Linked DNA regions of Homo sapiens. The protein of the gene in region 2 purifies or fractionates together with the protein of the main gene of each other region. This does not show direct contact. Each region holds a gene or a part of one and is shown on either strand. Other genes may lie near its edges.

The links.
Region 1: the proteins of EMX2 (region 2) and SERPINB8 purify together in Homo sapiens (affinity purification with mass spectrometry; one large-scale study listed by BioGRID and IntAct). This does not show direct contact.
Region 3: the proteins of EMX2 (region 2) and LRP4 purify together in Homo sapiens (affinity purification with mass spectrometry; one large-scale study listed by BioGRID and IntAct). This does not show direct contact.
Region 4: the proteins of EMX2 (region 2) and ACAD11 purify together in Homo sapiens (affinity purification with mass spectrometry; one large-scale study listed by BioGRID and IntAct). This does not show direct contact.

Annotation. Positions count from the first base shown.
Region 1 is NC_000018.10:63,985,967-63,989,874, reverse strand, and holds the end of SERPINB8 (serpin B8), read right to left. Parts: intron 3,618-3,908; coding exon of another isoform or gene 3,609-3,617; exon of another isoform or gene 3,225-3,608; intron 3,002-3,224; coding exon 2,597-3,001; 3' UTR 501-2,596; downstream 1-500. UniProt on the Homo sapiens protein: Has an important role in epithelial desmosome-mediated cell-cell adhesion.
Region 2 is NC_000010.11:117,545,746-117,550,124, reverse strand, and holds the end of EMX2 (homeobox protein EMX2), read right to left. Parts: coding exon 4,309-4,379; intron 2,061-4,308; coding exon 1,893-2,060; 3' UTR 579-1,892; downstream 1-578. UniProt on the Homo sapiens protein: Transcription factor, which in cooperation with EMX1, acts to generate the boundary between the roof and archipallium in the developing brain. May function in combination with OTX1/2 to specify cell fates in the developing central nervous system.
Region 3 is NC_000011.10:46,856,217-46,860,664, forward strand, and holds the end of LRP4 (low-density lipoprotein receptor-related protein 4 precursor), read right to left. Parts: intron 3,100-4,448; coding exon 2,767-3,099; 3' UTR 501-2,766; downstream 1-500. UniProt on the Homo sapiens protein: Mediates SOST-dependent inhibition of bone formation. Functions as a specific facilitator of SOST-mediated inhibition of Wnt signaling.
Region 4 is NC_000003.12:132,558,810-132,563,423, forward strand, and holds part of ACAD11 (acyl-CoA dehydrogenase family member 11), read right to left. Parts: intron 2,409-4,614; coding exon 2,292-2,408; intron 1,134-2,291; coding exon 1,024-1,133; intron 277-1,023; coding exon 162-276; 3' UTR 1-161. UniProt on the Homo sapiens protein: Acyl-CoA dehydrogenase, that exhibits maximal activity towards saturated C22-CoA.

The DNA.
Region 1 (3,908 bases), on a different chromosome or scaffold from region 2:
GCCTCCCGGGTTCACGCCATTCTCCTGCCTCAGCCTCCCGAGTAGCTGGGACTACAGGCGCCCACCACTACGCCCAGCTAATTTTTTGTATTTTTAGTAGAGACGGGGTTTCACCGTTTTAGCCGGGATGGTCTCGATCTCCTTACCTCGTGATCCGCCCGCCTCGGCCTCCCAAAGTGCTGGGATTACAGGCGTGAGCCACCGCGCCCGGCCTAAGCACATTTTTTTAAATGCTGAACATAATTAGGCATTAGGGAAATGCAACCAAAAGCCGGTACACGCTGAAAGTAACAACACTGGTAGTACCAAGTATTGGTGAGAAGAGAGAAAAACCAGAACTCTCCTAGGCTTTACTGGGAATGTTAAATGATACAACCACTTTCAAAGGCAATTTGGCAGATCCTTAAAAAGTTAAACTTACACCTTCCATATGACCCAGCCATTCTACTTCTATGTATCTATATACAAAAGAAATGAAGACATATGTCCATACAAAGATGTATATATATAAATATTCATAAAAACTTTATTTTCAATAGCAAAAATCTTGGTAACAACGTAAATGTTCATCAACAGGTAAATTTGTTCATCAACAAATCATGGTATACCTATACAAAAAAATGTTACTTACCAATAAAAGGGATGAACTATTGATACATACAATAACATAAATGAATCTCAAAATAATTGTACTGAGTGACAGGAGTCATACTACAAAGCATAGATGATGTATGGTTCCATGTATGTAAATTTCTTTAAAAATGCAAATTAATCTATAGTGACAGAAAGAAGATTGGTAGTTGCCTGAGCAGATCAGTGGTTGGGATGGGACGGGGAGAGGGAGAAGGAAGAGTGAGAAATTACAAAGATGCAAGAAGGAATTTGGGAGTATGATAGATAGGTTCATTATCTTGAATATAGCGATGGTTTGTTTCATGGAAAATGTGTCAGAACTTATTGTAGAGGTTAAATATGTGAAATGTATTCTGTGTCAATTAAAGTGTTCTTCAAATTAGAGGTGGAAGTGAGAACAAAACTCACAGATGTATACCTTTCAGTCCTGTGGATTAATTTTGCCCAAACCTGCTTTGGAAAACATGATCCCTAAATGAATGTGGCCTAACAGATATATCCTGGCTTGGTCAAATTTAAGTAAGAGCTGTAATATGAATGGTTCATGTAACTGTTAACTGTCAGTCAAAAACAGAGTCAGGATTAACCACTGTTCAGTCCAACTCATTAAAGAAATAATAAAGCAGGCAGCAGTCAGTGGTGGTATAAACAGTGACATAAGTGAGAGTACAAACCAGTGTAACTTTCTAGGGACCAATTTGGAAGAAGTCTCAAAATGTGCTCAACTTTTATCTCAACAGTACTATTGTTAGGAATTTTAAAAAATATATTAAGGATGTGAGCAAATATTTAGTATATCCAAAACAGCATAATATATATTATTAGCAATCTATTATTTGTTAATAGAAATAATTTTAATTACTCAAACTGTCTAAAATTAGATTCAATTATAGAAATCCAGCCACACAGTGGAATACTATGCACATCAAATTGATGACCTGGAAAGATCTTAAGGGAGGTTTTTCATAAGGGAAGAAATAAGCTACTGAAGGATATGATTAACTTGTAGTAAAATGCTTATAAATTTCTATTTGCATACACATAATAGGGAAGGATGTATATCACTATTAACAGCAGTGATTGCTGTGTGTTGGAATTGTGGGTGACTTCAATTTTTTTGGAGACTTTGCTGTAGTTTCCAAATTGCTGCCACAACGCAATTTTATTTTTAGGCAGAAAAAAATTAATGTATATGGAGGTTCTTTCTTAACTAAGGGGTGTGCTTGAGCTGTGTCTGAGCACATATGATTAGTTAGAGGACTCAGTGGTGTGTTGCGTAAGTTCCTTTGGTATTTTGTGTGTTTCAGAGGGAAAAGGAATGGAAAGAACAGCATAGCAAGCTTCAGATATTTGCCTCCTAGCTCAGTCCTAAAGTGCATTGCTGAGTCCCTGAACTTGTATCTCAGGCTTATGGAAAGATGAGAAGGAGCTGTCTTCATTACAAACTGTGTGAGACAGGGGGCATGCAGGGCTGTCTATGTGACAGTGACAGAAGCAGATCACTATTTCAGCTGCACATGAGACACAGGGTGGCTGCAGCTTTACTCTATAGGGTTTGCCCTTGGCTTTGTGTGCAGTGTCACCTGGGCACTAGTCCCCTGTTCAGCCTGGCAGTGGTGGTGGGCAGAGCCGGGCGGATGGAAGAGGGCTGGCTCCTGAAGCCCTGAGATGCTCCATAAGATCCCCTGAAACAATGGGCACAGACTTAGGTGAAGGCAGAGGCAATGGCAGGCACCCCAAACACTCCAAAACCAGCATAGCCTTCCCAGGCCCAAATTTCATGCATCTGCGGCCTCAGTTATTCTCAATGGCTCTGGAACTTTCAGCAAAGACTTTCACACACTATCCAGTGCACACGCTTTATTTTGGCATTCAAGCCACTGCACCAACTAGGTCACAGGGAATGTTAATTAAGGCAAGATAGGTAGAAGGAAAGGAGGGTATGTACAGCAATTGCTCCTCTTTACGGAGAAGAGAACCTGCCACAGAACAAGATGCAGTTGGTTTTGTGGTGCCTGATGAAGAAAAGAAAAGGGTGGTCTGCACAGAATCTTGGCTCCATTCTGCTGCACCGGGAATTCCTGACCACAGCAGTGGCTGCGGCAGCCTCTGTGCCTTCCTCATTGACCTCCACGAAGCACTTGTGGGCAACCTTGGACAGAGGCACATTCTTCTCAGTTGACATTCCAGAAAAGTCTGCCTTGGCTTCGTCAAAAGCATCGATCATTCCTAATCTTCGAAGGAAAGGCTCCAAGTCATAACTCTCCTCCAGCTTTAATCTGGGAAGGAAAACTTGAACCTTACTTTTTGTCAACTTTTCTGAATTTGTCCAGGCTTTGAATTTCTCATATGTAAGTGCTTTTTCCACCTAGGATAAGAAAGACTCAAACCTTAAAATTTAGATGACAATAGCCTGATACCCACACACCCATTTATTACCCCTCCCCCAATGACATGCAATTAGATGGTGAGTTCTGGTCCAAGAAAATCTACAGATATTTTCTTTTATAAACACACCAAGATTTTCTCCCAAATTTTCATCTTTTCACAGTTTTATGGAGACAAGTGTAAAAGAGCTAGTAAACACCTGAGACAGGCAGAAATTTTTAATAAAAACAATTTGTACCTAACTCCTTTCAAATGTTAAAAACATTTTTTAACAGTTTAGAAAATTCTAACCAATTCATTACATTAATCTTCATGCAATACATACTACTGTGAGTGGGAGAGATTGTTTGACAAAAGACAAAGAGCATGGCTCAGAACTCTGCTTCTGAGTCTAATGAGGGGACTATTCAGGGTTAAATCAGAGGGCAACTCAGAGTAAAAGAGAGGGAATTGTGTTTCATCTGAAGATGAAGGGAGGCATGAGAAGGGAGCATGAGACGAGAAATGGGGAATGCAAGAAGACTTCATCAGCATCCTTGTTTGTCCTCTGCCTGTCCTGGAGTTAGCTTCAAATTCTTCAAGATCCATCACTCTTTCTATTTATCAATAAGGTAGAAAGAAAAAAGGGAGAAAGGCCTTCCACTAGCATCTCCCCTTCCCTTTAACAACTGGAGCCCAGGTGGGTACTCCTCTCCAACGAGCATTGTTTTGATTTTGACTCTATTTCTAGACTCTCCTAATTTTCTCATAAGTGGCCACAACAGATGTCATCCCTGACTTAGGGCAGTAGCTTTCTGATTCCAAAGGGAAGCCAGGAAAATCAAGCAGCCCACCCTCAACATCCTGTGCATTGGTGTGCCAGAGCTGACCCCTATCAATTGTTAAAC
Region 2 (4,379 bases):
TGATTACAACTTTTTCTTTAATGTTAAAATTAAGAGTTGAAGGTTTTTCAGAACACTTGCCTTATAAGGCTGCTGAGGCCCTTGGGCTTGGCCCATCACCTTCAGCAGATTGGGGCCAGGGAGAGGAGGAAAGAAAGGAAGGAAAAGTAAGACTTGTACTTTGGGGTTTGAAGTCAGAAAGTTTAGAAGTTGCAAGATTCTGCTACATGTTTTCCCCAATATTTTGGGAGAGTAGTCCTCAATGTGTAACTATATGTCCAGTTTTTTTTTAATAACCAGAGGTTAAGAGAAGTAAGCATTTTAACCTGAAGTTCAAACTAAACTCCCTCAGGAGGGCATACAATGGGCAAAGTCTGGTTGAAAAACTTTTCTCCCATCTCTTTTCTGAAGGACTTAAGTTTTCCTAATCTTCTCCCTTCTCCACCCTCATCTTTCTTTAAAATGCCTGAGAATCCATCAATCTGGCCCTTTTGTGGGTGAGGAGCCTGGGTTTCTTGAGCCTAGTTGGGGAAGGACCACACTCAAATTACTGAGATACATTTTTAAAGATCCACTTCAATTTCCCAAGACGACTACTCTGAGGGCATATTGATAAATCTTTATTGACAAAATATTGACATTGACATACTTCTTGGAAGTATATAGTGTGTTAGAATTCTAACAAATTAACACAAAACACAAAAATATTTACATTCTGGTATAGAAGACATTAAGGAAGCATTTGTCACTCTCTTTAGTAAGTCTATGATCTTGGAATAGAAACTCAGTGCTTGAAAACTTGCCGCCGTGCGCTTGGCCACACTTAACATCATCCCCGCTAACTACAGTCCTTCAGGTTTTGCAATAGATAGATTTAAAGTTTGGAATAGGCATTGCAGTGAATGGTTGAACTCGGCCAATTTCTCCAACCACTGAAAGGAGAAGTTTGCATCAGGGTTTTAAGCCTCAGGATGTTAGGAAAGGGAATGTCCAAGAAATATAATTAATTTAGGGGTTTTTTTCCCAGTACAAGTCCTGATTCTTTTTGTGGGCACCCTCCCCCGCCACCCCCAGCCCCCCCGTCGTCCTGCTCCCCGTTTCTCTGTAAGAGGACCACTATCGCTGAGCCTACTTCATTTAGCTTGCACAATCACTTTGACATCAGAAGGTATCAAAAAGTGTTTACAGACTGCACATTTCTTGGGAAAAAAAATCAAAATAAAAAGCACACAGAACCTGTCTTTAAAAGGAAAAGAAAATTACAATTCATTTTCGGTCTTTAAACACCATTCGCCCAACAACTGCTACATGCATTTCAAGGATTTGAAACAGGTGTGGGATGGGGCTAGATATGGAATTTTTGTTTTTTATTACTAATTATTTTTAAAGATGGGGGGGAAACACAGCGAAGTGCAAAAAACAAAAAAGTCCTGTGCCTGGTTGGGTCGTGGTTTTTATCATCATCATCATTTTTTAAGTGGACTGTGATAAACGGAATACCTGCCAATCATCTTGTCTCCCCGGTTTGGTGTTTGATTGACAGCTCCCCTTGTCAGAGTGCACGTTCAGCTTTCTCTCTCTCTCTCTCTCTCTCTCTTTCTCTCTCTTTCTCTCTCTCCCTCCCTCTTTCTCCTTCTCTCTGTGTCTCTCACTCAGCTGCCTCTTTAGACGAGGGTCGCTTGTTGATGAAGGAGCCTCCATCCTCTGCCATCTTGGCGCGGCCTCGGTTTGGGACCCTGTGCCCTCGCTGTCCAGAGTCTTCGCCGCATTCCGCTGCTCCCTCCGATTCCCTCTCCCTTTCTCGGTGAACGTGTATGCGGTTTGTTTTTGTTTTGTAGGGTTTTTTCCTTCTCCACCTCTCCCTGTCTCTTTTGCTCCATGTTGTCCGTTTCTGTGGGGTTAGGTTTATGTTTTTAATCATCTGAGGTCACGTCTATTTCCTCCGGACTCGCCTGCTTGGTGGCGATTCTCCACCGGTTAATATGGTGCGTCCCTTTTTTCTTTTGTTGCGAATCTGAGCCTTCTTCCTCCAGCTTCTGCCTTTTGAACTTTGTTCTTCGGTTCTGAAACCATACTTTTACCTGCGGGTGAGAGGCAGATGGGGTGCGTTAGTTCTTTCAGAGCACCCTTCTATCAAGTGCCTGATCCTTTCACCCAGCCCAGACTCCAGTTCCAGACTCAGCAAAGACCCAGCCCCCGAGATGCAAGTCCTAAGGTCCAGCCTCCCCAAGGCCTGCCCTCAGGGAGCAGGGCCGCTAGTGCGTGGTGGAACAGAAGCCCAGCTCCCTGCCCTTCTGAGGCTTCCTGAAGAGCCTTTCCCCAGGGCCCTGTGGCCCGGAGTGCACTGAGCCCCATCTCTCCTGGCCCTGCAGAGGGCATCTATATCCCGCTGAGAGCAAAGCCTTGCAAAGCATGGGAAGCCCCTACAAAAATAATAAGTGATTAAAAGAAAAAGAGACATGTCCCTAACTCCCTCCAGCAAGCGAGTGCAAGAGAGACCTCAGTCCGCCGCTGCTGCAGCTCCCCTCAGGGCCCAATGTGCTTTCTATTTTCTGCTGGTCTGGGCGGCGTTTCCTAAATATAGCGTCTCCTCTTCGTGGCGGGGGCCCTGGGTAGGCGATCAGGGTTTGCCTGAGCTGCATCCTCCGTGCGGGGGACTCTCACAGGTGAGCAGGAAGGGGATGGGGCTGGAGGAGGCCAGGAGGGACATGGAGTGTGTAGGCCTCCAGACCAACCCAGCTGTACCTTTATAGCTAGGAAAATGAGTTCAAAACTGAAAGCTTCTGAAAGACCGTGGGTTACACGGAAAGTAAGAGAAACTAAGAGAAGGGGAGGTGACAGCAAGCCCCCTCTTCCCTCCTTCTAAACAGCCCCGGAACAGGCTGCTGGTCACACAACCTCGGACCCCAGTCCCATCACTTCCCACCAGGGTGGGGCTGGAGGCCCGGCCTCACCAGAGCGGCTGTGAGAGGTCTCAGGAGCAATGAGGTGGGAGTCGGCTGCCATCCCACGGCCCCCTAGGAAAGCTGAGTCGTGGGTCCTCATTTAGCCACCAGACAGTAACACAGTCCAATCTTCACAGCAGTGGTGTACAGGTAAGGGAGATGGCAGTGACTGCACCTCTGATACCCTCCCCCCACAACTCCTATTCTATCTGGATAAGAGTACCCCACAGCCCAGTGCCAGTCCCTGGACCCCTGGGATCCATTCCATTCCCTCCTTTGAGGCCGCAGGCCGGTCCGTCTTGCTCTCCCGGAAAGCCACAGTCGCCCAAAGTGCTCCATGAAAAAAGCTGAGCGGGAACAAGGCTGAATTTAATTTGCTTTGAGTTTGCTAATTGAGGGGGAGGACGGTTCATTTCTCCCCGGCGCTGGCCCAAGGCGCGCGTCGGTGCGCTCGGGGCTTGACACGCACACAAAGACTCCAGGCAGCGTGGGCAGCGAGGCGGACAAAGACCACCGCCGCCTCGGCTGTCCAGGAGAAATCAGCCGGGCCGCGCCTTGTGCCGGGCTCCGCACAAACCCGCCAGGCCCTCCTCGGTTTTGGGGTGGGGAACATGTTTTAAAACAAAAGCCTCGACCTTTCTGAGCTGCCCAGGAAAAGTGTTACAACTTAGTCTGCCCAAAAAAACGTTACTGTTTGCTGGGAACTTTGACCCCGCCCTGCGGCTCCGTGTACAGTAGCGCCTAGTGTAGTCCTAAACCCCCTCCCCACCCTGGGATAAACCCAAGCCAGGCCCGCCCAGGGACCCTGCTGTGCAGAAGGCCTGTGCCCTGAGGCAGACCCTCTCTGCAGCCTCCCAACTTTACTTCTCTGATATAGGGTACACACAGGACGCTTGCCCTCTACCTTCCCATCGCCCATCTCCTTCAGGGAAGTCACTGGAGCCGACGGTGTGAGCCGTGGGCTCACAGTCGCTCAGAACTCATCTTTAACCCACATCCTGTCCTTACCAGCCTCCAGCTCCAAACACCCAGAAACCCCACTGTGCTCTCCCTCTTCCTGGACCCCAGCAGGGGTCTTCACACTCTCATCAAAAGTCTCACCAGAAATGCAGGGATGTCTTAGCCAGGACATGCCCAACTGGACAGAGAAACAACTCGGCGCGTTTCCCCAGAACCTGGGGCAGATTGGCACTTACAGCCCCTTTCTGGAGCCCAACAAAGCCAGCACCTTGAGACATACATCCCGAGCCCAGGCGTGGAACCAGCTACCAGGACCTGTGCGGAAGGCCCTCACAGAGCTCCGTGCTCATGGGTGTGCTTGGGAGCCAGCTTTGGGGAGGGGGCGCACGCCTAGATGGGTTCCTCGCGCCCGGGCCGCAGTCACCTGAGTTTCCGTGAGGCTGAGGCTGTGTGCCAGCTGCTTCCTTTCGGCGCCCACCACGTAGTGATTCTTCT
Region 3 (4,448 bases), on a different chromosome or scaffold from region 2:
CTTGTTCTAGCCTTGAGAAGTAGTGGATGAGCTATGAAAAGACAGCTTTTAAAAATAAATGAAATCCTAGTGATAATTTGATCCACTCTCAGACTAACTATGAAAGTTGACTAAGATCAAACAGAGCTAGTGGCAGATCTGGGACTGGAATTAGCCCTCCATGTCCCCAGCTCCAGTACTTTTCTTACTACATGAGATAGTCTTGCCAGTGACCATCACTGCAAGGCAAAGTAAAGTTCTGTAACAAAGACCTAGAACAGAAATAGAAGATACATGGTATACATGCCATGACATTTCCTTCCAGTGCACAGAAGAGATGTCACTAGCCATATGACATTCTTCCCATTGGGTGCGAATAGGCCCTCAGGCAGCCACTACCAACCAGTCAGAGTCAGCACTCAAGAGGAAACCCATCTACCATTCCTCTTCCAGAGGAAATAAAGGTTTCATCAGTCAAGGAACTCTGGCCTCGACCTGTCTTCTCCAGATGAGCTGAAAACTCCAGCAGGAACCTCACACTCTTTATTGCTCTTCACTGTGCCCACATCCACAAAGGACTTAAAAGTGATGTCTGTAAGCAGGTTTTCCACAGCATGGGTCTGCCAGACAGAGCAGGTGCAGGATTAGTCATGACTCCAAGCCAGGCAAGGTGATTAAGAAAAGCTAAATTTATATTAAATTATCATAAAGTCCTAAAATACTGAACATAGTGGTTAAATAACTCCAGAAAGTCCAATCTCTCCAGTGAGTAACGTTAAAACCATTACACATGAGCATGGGAGAATCGCTTCCATTAGTTTAGGACAGAGAGATTTTGCTTTTTACAGAGTAAATCAGTGCTCAAATAGATACTTCCTCAAATATGTCCTTTCTACATTCTGAACAGCCCAAGTGCAATAAGATCCTTCCCCCTTTCCAATCAAGAAAATGCCACTTTTCTACTTGCTCTTCCTCCCCAGACGTGAGTCTAAGGACCCAAAGTGCTCACTCCTTTACTGCTTGTTAAGTGTAATGTGGGGAGGCTCAGAACTGGGGCTGACGCTACTGAGAGCAAGGCTAAGGGCCTGGTATCTCTCTCTAGCAGTCTTAGAACTGACTAGAAAAGAATTGATCTTGTCCTTTTTCACTTTGGTAGCTGATTTCTCAATACCAGTAACCACAGGAGAAGTTTCAACTCAGGAAACTTCCCCTAGAAATTCTCCCCTCCATTCCCAGCCCCTGTTGTTCTCTCCTGCCACTTCTAATTCCTGGGGGAGAAGAGGTCTGGGTCTGCCATGGGCTAGGAGGGCCTCATCAGTGGTGCTCTCTACCTTCCTACTCCTTACCCACCTCTTTGTATTTTTATTTATTCAGCCCTCCCACCACAGGACTTTGGAGATTGCTGGTGCCACAAGGCTTGGTCAGAAAAAGCAAATTAGGCAAAAAAACAAACAAAAAAACCCCACGAAGAACAGCTAGGGAGACGTTTTAGGGCAAAAATAAGTCTCAATTTCCCTGATACCAGGCTGAGACACGTGCCCTTTGTGTGAATGAGCATGAACCAAGTGATGGCATCCCACATGGAAACTAAGCCCCTTAGCTGAGGGGACAGCTGGAAGAGGAACATCACCACCCCGTAGCCACAGGCTTGCTGTCCACTAACTTAGATCCCTGAGCACTTGAGAAAGAACATAGGAAGTTCAACAGGAAGTTTGACCCTCATGGATACTTCTCTTTAGGCCCTGGGTTTCCCAAGTCTCCAACCTGATCGTTCTTTCTGACCATTTATGACAACTTCTGGTTTTTCTTTGAAAGCTTGTTTCTAGGTCTCTTCCCCAGAATCCCAGGACATGAGGGAGAGAGGGGTCAGGAGGTATACCATATTTGGTCTAGGCAGAGCTTCTTAGACTTTTCAGAGACTCAGCCCCCAAGGCCTAACATTCACTCAAGCCACTGGCTCACAACCTGGTTAATTTGAGCAAAGACTTAGGAAAGGTACTGGCCAGTGGTGGCACCAGGAGGGAATTCCTATTAGCCAGTAGCCTTGTGATAGGGGACCCAGTTATCTGAATGTAGAAACAGCTCCAGACATTCTAGGAGGAGGAAGAACAGCCTGAGCCACCCCCATCTCACCAGTATCTGCTGCTGAAAAGGCAGTGTCTCTTAGGGCAAGAATAATGTCCACTGCCAGCAATGGACCAGACACCCAGATCCAACTACCCCCCAAAGCTTTTTCATGTTACTAACACACTTGAGGCTGGAGGTTTCCCAGATGCCCATACCTGCTGGGCTGATTCTTCCTTCTTCTCTCAGCCTCTATCCTTCATCCCTGTCTTTACCCACACCCCCATGTCCCAGCCCCTGATGGGCAAGTTCTCTCAGAGAAGCAGTCATGCTGGCTGTGATGGGGCAGAGCGCAGTCCTGGGTCATCAGCTGCATCAGCACTGAGAAGCAGGCACTGAGGGTACTGGGGAAAGGGGAGGTGGAGCTCTACGCTGGTGAGGAATCACGAATAAGCAGTTTCAGGGGGCCCAGGATGGAGTACAAGATGTGAGGTTCATGGTAAAATCCAGGTCTAAATTCTCGTGATGTGCCATCATTTCTTGTGCACAGGTAGTTATGGACTCACGTGGTAAACAGCTCCGGTGAAGGCTTAGGAACAGTTATGGGGTGGGAGGAGGAGGAGGACAAGCACACAGAAGCGGGGCCTGCGGTGTAAGCGAGCACAAGGACTAGACGTCCATAAAGGAGAAGGAACAGGCAGGCAGGGAAGAGAATGTGGGCATTTAGACCTGGCTCTCTGAGGAGAGCTTGCGTTCATGTTTCCAGCCCGTGTCTGGCAGAGAGCCTCGTCTTTCTGGAGTGGCTGCAGTATGGACGCTGCTACACTCAGACTGCTCTTCCTGTAACAGCTGCTCCGTCTCTGTGTCATCCAGGGAGCCAGAGCTGGCCTGGATGGACACCGTGTCTGTCTTCATGCATACATGATCCCGGAGGAGGCCCCCCCGTGAGCTTCGCAGTTGCTTGAGGTCATCCCACTCAGCATCATCCCCAGACAGGAGGCAGATTCCCTCTACGATCTTGATCTTCTCCTTGGTGTAGTTATGGTCAGGCCCTCCCTAGGGTGGAGAGTGGGCAGATATGGTCAGTCAGTTGGCCTTCTACAAAGGATCCCATGGTAAACTGAAAAAGGAAGTGGATGGGGTAAGAGTAGGAGTGAAGCGCACAAAAATCCCACAAACAAATGGGGAAATGTGATTAAGACAAGTGTATGAGGCCTAGCCTAAAAGGGGAGAGGCAGCTGTGATAATTATTACCATTACCATACAGGAGGAGGGAAAACCATGGCTTCCGGTCCTGCAGCAGCCACTCACTGGCTTTGTCACCTTAGGCAAATTATTTCACATTTCTAAAACTCAGTCTCTTAAGACTCTGCAGTGTGAGGAGAGTAACAGTATCCACACCTCACAACCAACTGCTGTCACCTTAAATGAGATGATACATGGAATGCAGTTATCAGGGAGCTTGACACAAGATGCACTATAACATGTTAGCTATGTTACATTGTTACTGTGGTTTATTAATGGGACATCATGCTGATATAAATCATCAAAAGCAATTGGCAAGAGCAATTAAATGTACATTTATTCAGGATTTTAAGCTACTTCGGGTGCTAGTTTGTATCTCTTTTTTCTAATTTTGTTAAGGAGAAAACTTGGGAGGTAAGACAGGGGACTCTAGAAAATCCTCTTATCTGGCCGGGCGTGGTGGCTTACACCTGTAATCCCAGCACTTTGGGAGGCCCAGGCGGGCAGATCACTTGAGTTCAGGAGTTCGAGACTAGCCTGGCCAACATGGTGAAACCCCATCTCTACTAAAAATACAAAAATCAGCTGGGTTTGGTGGCGGGTGCCTGTAATCCCAGCTATTTGGGAGGCTGAGGCAGGAGAATCCCTTGAACTCCGGAGGCTGAGGTTACAGTGAGCCAAGATCATGCCACTGCACTCCAGCCTGGGTGACAGAGCAAGATTCCATTAAAAAAAAAAAAAGAAAGAAAGAAAGAAAAAAAACTAAAAAAAAGGAAATCTTCTTATCTGGGTCCTAAACGTCAATATAGTGGGGTCCTGCAACTTATAACCTTTTTTGGGAGGTTACTCTCGCTCTGCTGCCATGAGTCCTGGGACCATTCCCAAGCAAAACCTGGGACTCTTCCAGGCACAGCCTGGAGTTCTGCTCGGGCCTCTCCCTTTATGGCTTCTTCAAAGAGCAGCCTCACTCCTGGCTGCTGGGGTATACCAACCGACATACCACCACTGCTAGAAGAAAATGGATCATCTTGGGTTCTGTCCCTGGGATAGTATTCCTGCCAAGAGTTCTGCAACTGTGGCTGTGGCTCTATTTTTGTAACAATTCAATTCCACAGATATTTACTGAGCCCCTATGTTAAGCAGAAGACTGTGCTAGGTGC
Region 4 (4,614 bases), on a different chromosome or scaffold from region 2:
ATAAAACCCACTGATCAAAATAGATGCTATAATCTTTACCACAAATGAATAATTAACCCTGTGCTCAAACTGCTACAAAAATATGAGATTCAAATGTTGGAGCCAATGAAGTTTGTATAAAGGAGAGTTTCTGCCAGTGGGATGTGGCAGTGCCACCCTCCTTATATCTTGGCTGTCAGTCTTTTGGCTTGGTCCCGCAGCTCCATTGTTGCGATTGCTGAAAGATGAACTTCGTCAGGTCCATCTGCTAAACGCAAAACTCGGGTTATAGCATACCTGAAAAAGCAAAAGAATCAGGGAACACAGGGAGTTATGGAAGAGGAACATGATACTTTGACATCAGTCACTCTGATTGTCAACCAAGACTATATTAATTCTTAAATTCCACCAAGGTCAGGGTAAGAAAAAGGGTACCAGGAAAATAAGCTAAAGGGCTTCTGCAATGCCATCTTAAAGTTTCCAACTTGGGAAAGTTAAATGCCAAAGTACAGTGGAGTTCATCTCATTCTTGGTTTGCTACAGTTTACTACATGTTGCTAGAACTTAGAACAGGCAGTGACTGGTATGATACTATATATTTAGTTCTTTCTTAAGGTTTAAAATTGATGAAGGATGAGACTCTATCTCCATTGTGATAGAGAAGGTGACACTGTAATTATGTGTGGAGATGGACAGATGGGGAATGGAGAATGTTCCTTTCTGCCTCCCAGTCATCAGGATCTATATATTAGATAGTCACTGACATGTCCTGCTACAAATTCAGCGAAACCCCATGCTGTATCTACAGCCCAGGAATCCTCAGTGGGACCCCTCAGTGTAAAAATTAACATAATGGAATGAAATGATTATTGTAATAATAAGAGCAACTATTTCTTGGTGTTGAGCTCTATATTAATGTATATCACTTCATTTAGCCTTCAATTACACTGAAAATAAACATAAGCAATTAATGTCAAGGCATCTGTAGATTTTTTACCTCCACGCCTATCAAACGTAGATGATTCTTAAATGACATCTACTCACATGTTAGCCAGAGGGTAATCCTGGGAAACACCAGCACCTCCGCACACCTGGATGGCCCAGTCAACGATTTTGCTGACAGCCCGTGGGGCAGCCACTTTGATCATTGCAATCTATATAAGCAAAATATGAAAAGAATGCTTCTTTCTTAGACTATACACAATGTGGCAAAACTGGGAAATGAAACAAGGAAACTTTCCCACATCCAAGTCACCACTAAAACAGGATCTTTAACAAAAGCCAACAAAGAGATCCTGCTGCAATGCCATATTTCAGTCAATACAGACCCTCTGGAAAGAGACACCTCTTCCAAATCACATTTTATCCATTTATTTCTAACTTGTCTTGTTTCCAAAAGGATTTCAGGCAGCTGATAAATCACACTCATCACCTTAGGGATCATAAAAATAGTCCAAGGGTCTTTGCGCTATTAATCAGGTTTCTTTTAGCAGTTTTATGGGCTTTTAGAATTAAATGATTATGTCTTTATTTCATATAATCCAGAAACATAAGAAAGCAAAGGATGAGAGGTCTCTTTCATGAAACATTTACTATGTAGCAGTATCATGCTGTGCATTTTTTGTTTTGTTATTTGAGACAGGCTCTCACTCTGTCACCCAGAATAGAGTGGAGTGGCTATTCCCAGGTGTGATCATAGCTCACTACTGCTGCCTCAGAATCCTGGGCTCAAGCAATCCCCCTGCCTCAGCCTCCCTGGGACTACAGGTACAAGTTACCATGTCGGCTAATTTTTTTTTTAAGAGACAGGGTCTCACTATGTTGCCCAGGCTGGTCTCGAATCCCTGGCCTCAAACAATTCTCCCACCTCCACTTCCCAAGTAGCTTGGATTACAGGCGAGAGCCACTGTACGTGGCTTCTGCACATTCTATGTACATCATCTTGGTTACTCTTCACAACAACCCTAGGCCTTAGGCAGAAAAGTTAAGTACTTTGCCCGTGATCACAAGGCTAGAAGAAAGTGGCAGAGTGGGTGCAGTTCCAGGGCTGTGTAAAGCCTATGATTTCCCCCATTCCTTGTTGCTGTATCTTAAGAATGCTGAAGATATTCTCCCTCCTGAAAATCATTCCCTAAAGCACTTGCTAGGAGACTAGCAAGTGACAGGCATTTATAATTTATAACCCAAAATCACATGGGGGCTTCCAATATTCTGAGTGCCATCAAGATGCCATGAAAACTGAAATGTCCAACAGGTGAGAGAACTGGAGAAGGCTCAGCAGTTGGTGGTCTGAGGGGAGAAGGTAGCCTCACCTCTTTCTTAGCGCCAGCACTGCCCAGAGTGTCCATGCTGTGAGCAGCTTTCAGAGTCAACAAGCGGATCTTCTCAATGGCAATGCGGCTTTCAGCAATCCAGTGAGCCACAACCTCCTATAGGGGAGGAAAAGGCAGCAAAAGAAGGAGGAGCTAAGCTGGTATCTGATGTCCACGTGTAACACAGTCTTATAGTTTGGTGAAAACACTCTCTAAGCCAGAGATTGTTCACAAGCTTTACTCTATGTATTTTTAAATGGAAGAGTTAATTCATTTGATATACACCAGCCTAACCACATACTTGTGGAATGCTTACAGTTAAAATTGAAATATTTTAGAAAGAAATTTTATTTTCCCAGAAAAATCATTTATTTTGGATATCTTAATGTCTAAGGTAAAGATGGCTGAACTGAGCAACTGCCTTACCGCCAAACCACTCAAAGGCCCTCCTGAATGCTAATTGCCTGCTGTCATGGAAACTTGGCTAAATGTATGGTAGTGAAGCTGCTTACAGGTAAACTAGAAAATTCTCAGCACAATTTCAGTGTGGGGACAGTTCAGCAGCAATTTGCTGTGTTGTTATTGTTATTTATTCATTAAAAATGACCTTTTCTTTAGTAGACAGTTGAATTATAATACATGTATAGATTGGAATAACCACAGTCAAGAACACAGAACAGTTCCATCTCCCACAGAACTCCCTGGTGCTGCCCCTTTTTAGTCACAGGCTCCTCTCACTCCTAACTTCTGGCAACCATTGATAGGTTCTCCATCACTATAGTTTTGCCTTTTCCAGAATGTCATGTAAATAGAATCATATAGCATGTATTGTTTTGAGACCAACTTCTTTCATTCAGTTTAATGCCTTTGAGTTTCATCCAAATTGTTCTGTGTATTGACTGTTCATTCCTTTTTATTGCTGAGTAGTATTCCATTGTAAGTATGTATCAGTTGGTTTATCCATTTGCCTGTTGAAGGACATTTCGGTTGTTGCCAGTTTTTAAATTTTATTTATTTATTTTTTGAGACAGACTGGCTCTGTCGCCCAGGCTGGAGTGCAGTGGCGCCATCTCAGATCACTGCAACCTCCACCTTCTGGGTTCAAGCGATTCTCCTGCCTCAGCCTCTGAGTAGCTGGGACTACAGGCGCCCATCACCATGCCTGGCTAATTTTTGTATTTTTTAGTAGAGACAGGGTTTCACCATATTGGCCAGGCTGGTCTTGAACTCCTGACCTTGTGATCTGCCTGCCTCGGCCTCCCAAAGTGCTGGGATTACAGGCGTGAGCCATCGCGAGATTATTCATAGAGTTTCTGTGTATTTGTATACGGGTTTTTGTGTGGACATGTTTTCATTTTTTAAAGCAGATAGCAGGAGTAGAATTGTTGGGTCAGTGGTAAATGTTTATTAAGAAGCTGACAGTTTTCTAGAGTGGTTGTACATTTTGCATTCCTACTAGCAGTGTATGAGAGTTCCAGTTGCTCCTCAAACCATCAGCACTTAGTATCATATTTTATTTTAGTCATTTTAAGTGTGCAGAGATATCATGGTTTTAATTTGCATTTCTGTAATGGCTACTGCTGTTGATCCCCTTCAATGTACTGATTTGCCATCTCTATACCTCTTTGGTGATATGTCTGTTAAAGTCTTTTGTCCATTTTTTAATTGGGTTGTTTTCTTACTATTTGATTTAGAGAGTCCTTCATATATTCAGGACGCTAGTCATTTGCCACATGAGAAATCTGTCAATTCTTTCTTTTATGAGCCTTGCTTTTGGTGCATGTTTAGGAACATTTTACCTAATCCCAGAAAATGATTTTTCCACTATGTTTTCTTCTAAAAGTTTACAGCTTTACCTTTTACATTTAGATCTATGATCCATTTAGAGTTAAAATTTTGTGTGAGGTGTGTGGTTTAGATCAAGGGTCCCTCTTTTGCCTATCTATGTCCAATTGCTGCAACACCATTTACTGTAAAGATGTAACCTTTTCCATTGAACTGCCTTTGCACCTATGTAAAAAATTAATTGGCCTATATTTCTATGAATCTATTCCTGGACTCTCTCTTCTGCTCCAAAGATCTACATGCCTTTTGCTCACTGATTACTGTAGTTTAGAGTAAGTCTTAAGATTAGGTAGTGTGATTCACTGAGCTTTCTTCTTTTTCAAATTGTTTTGGCTACTTTAGTGTTTTTGTATTTCCATATAAATTTTAGGATCAGTCTGTCTTTATCTACAAAATTGTCCTTTTGGGACTGTGATTGGAACTGCCTTAAGTCTGCAGATCAATTTGAGGATGGTTAACATCTTTAATCTGTTAGTCT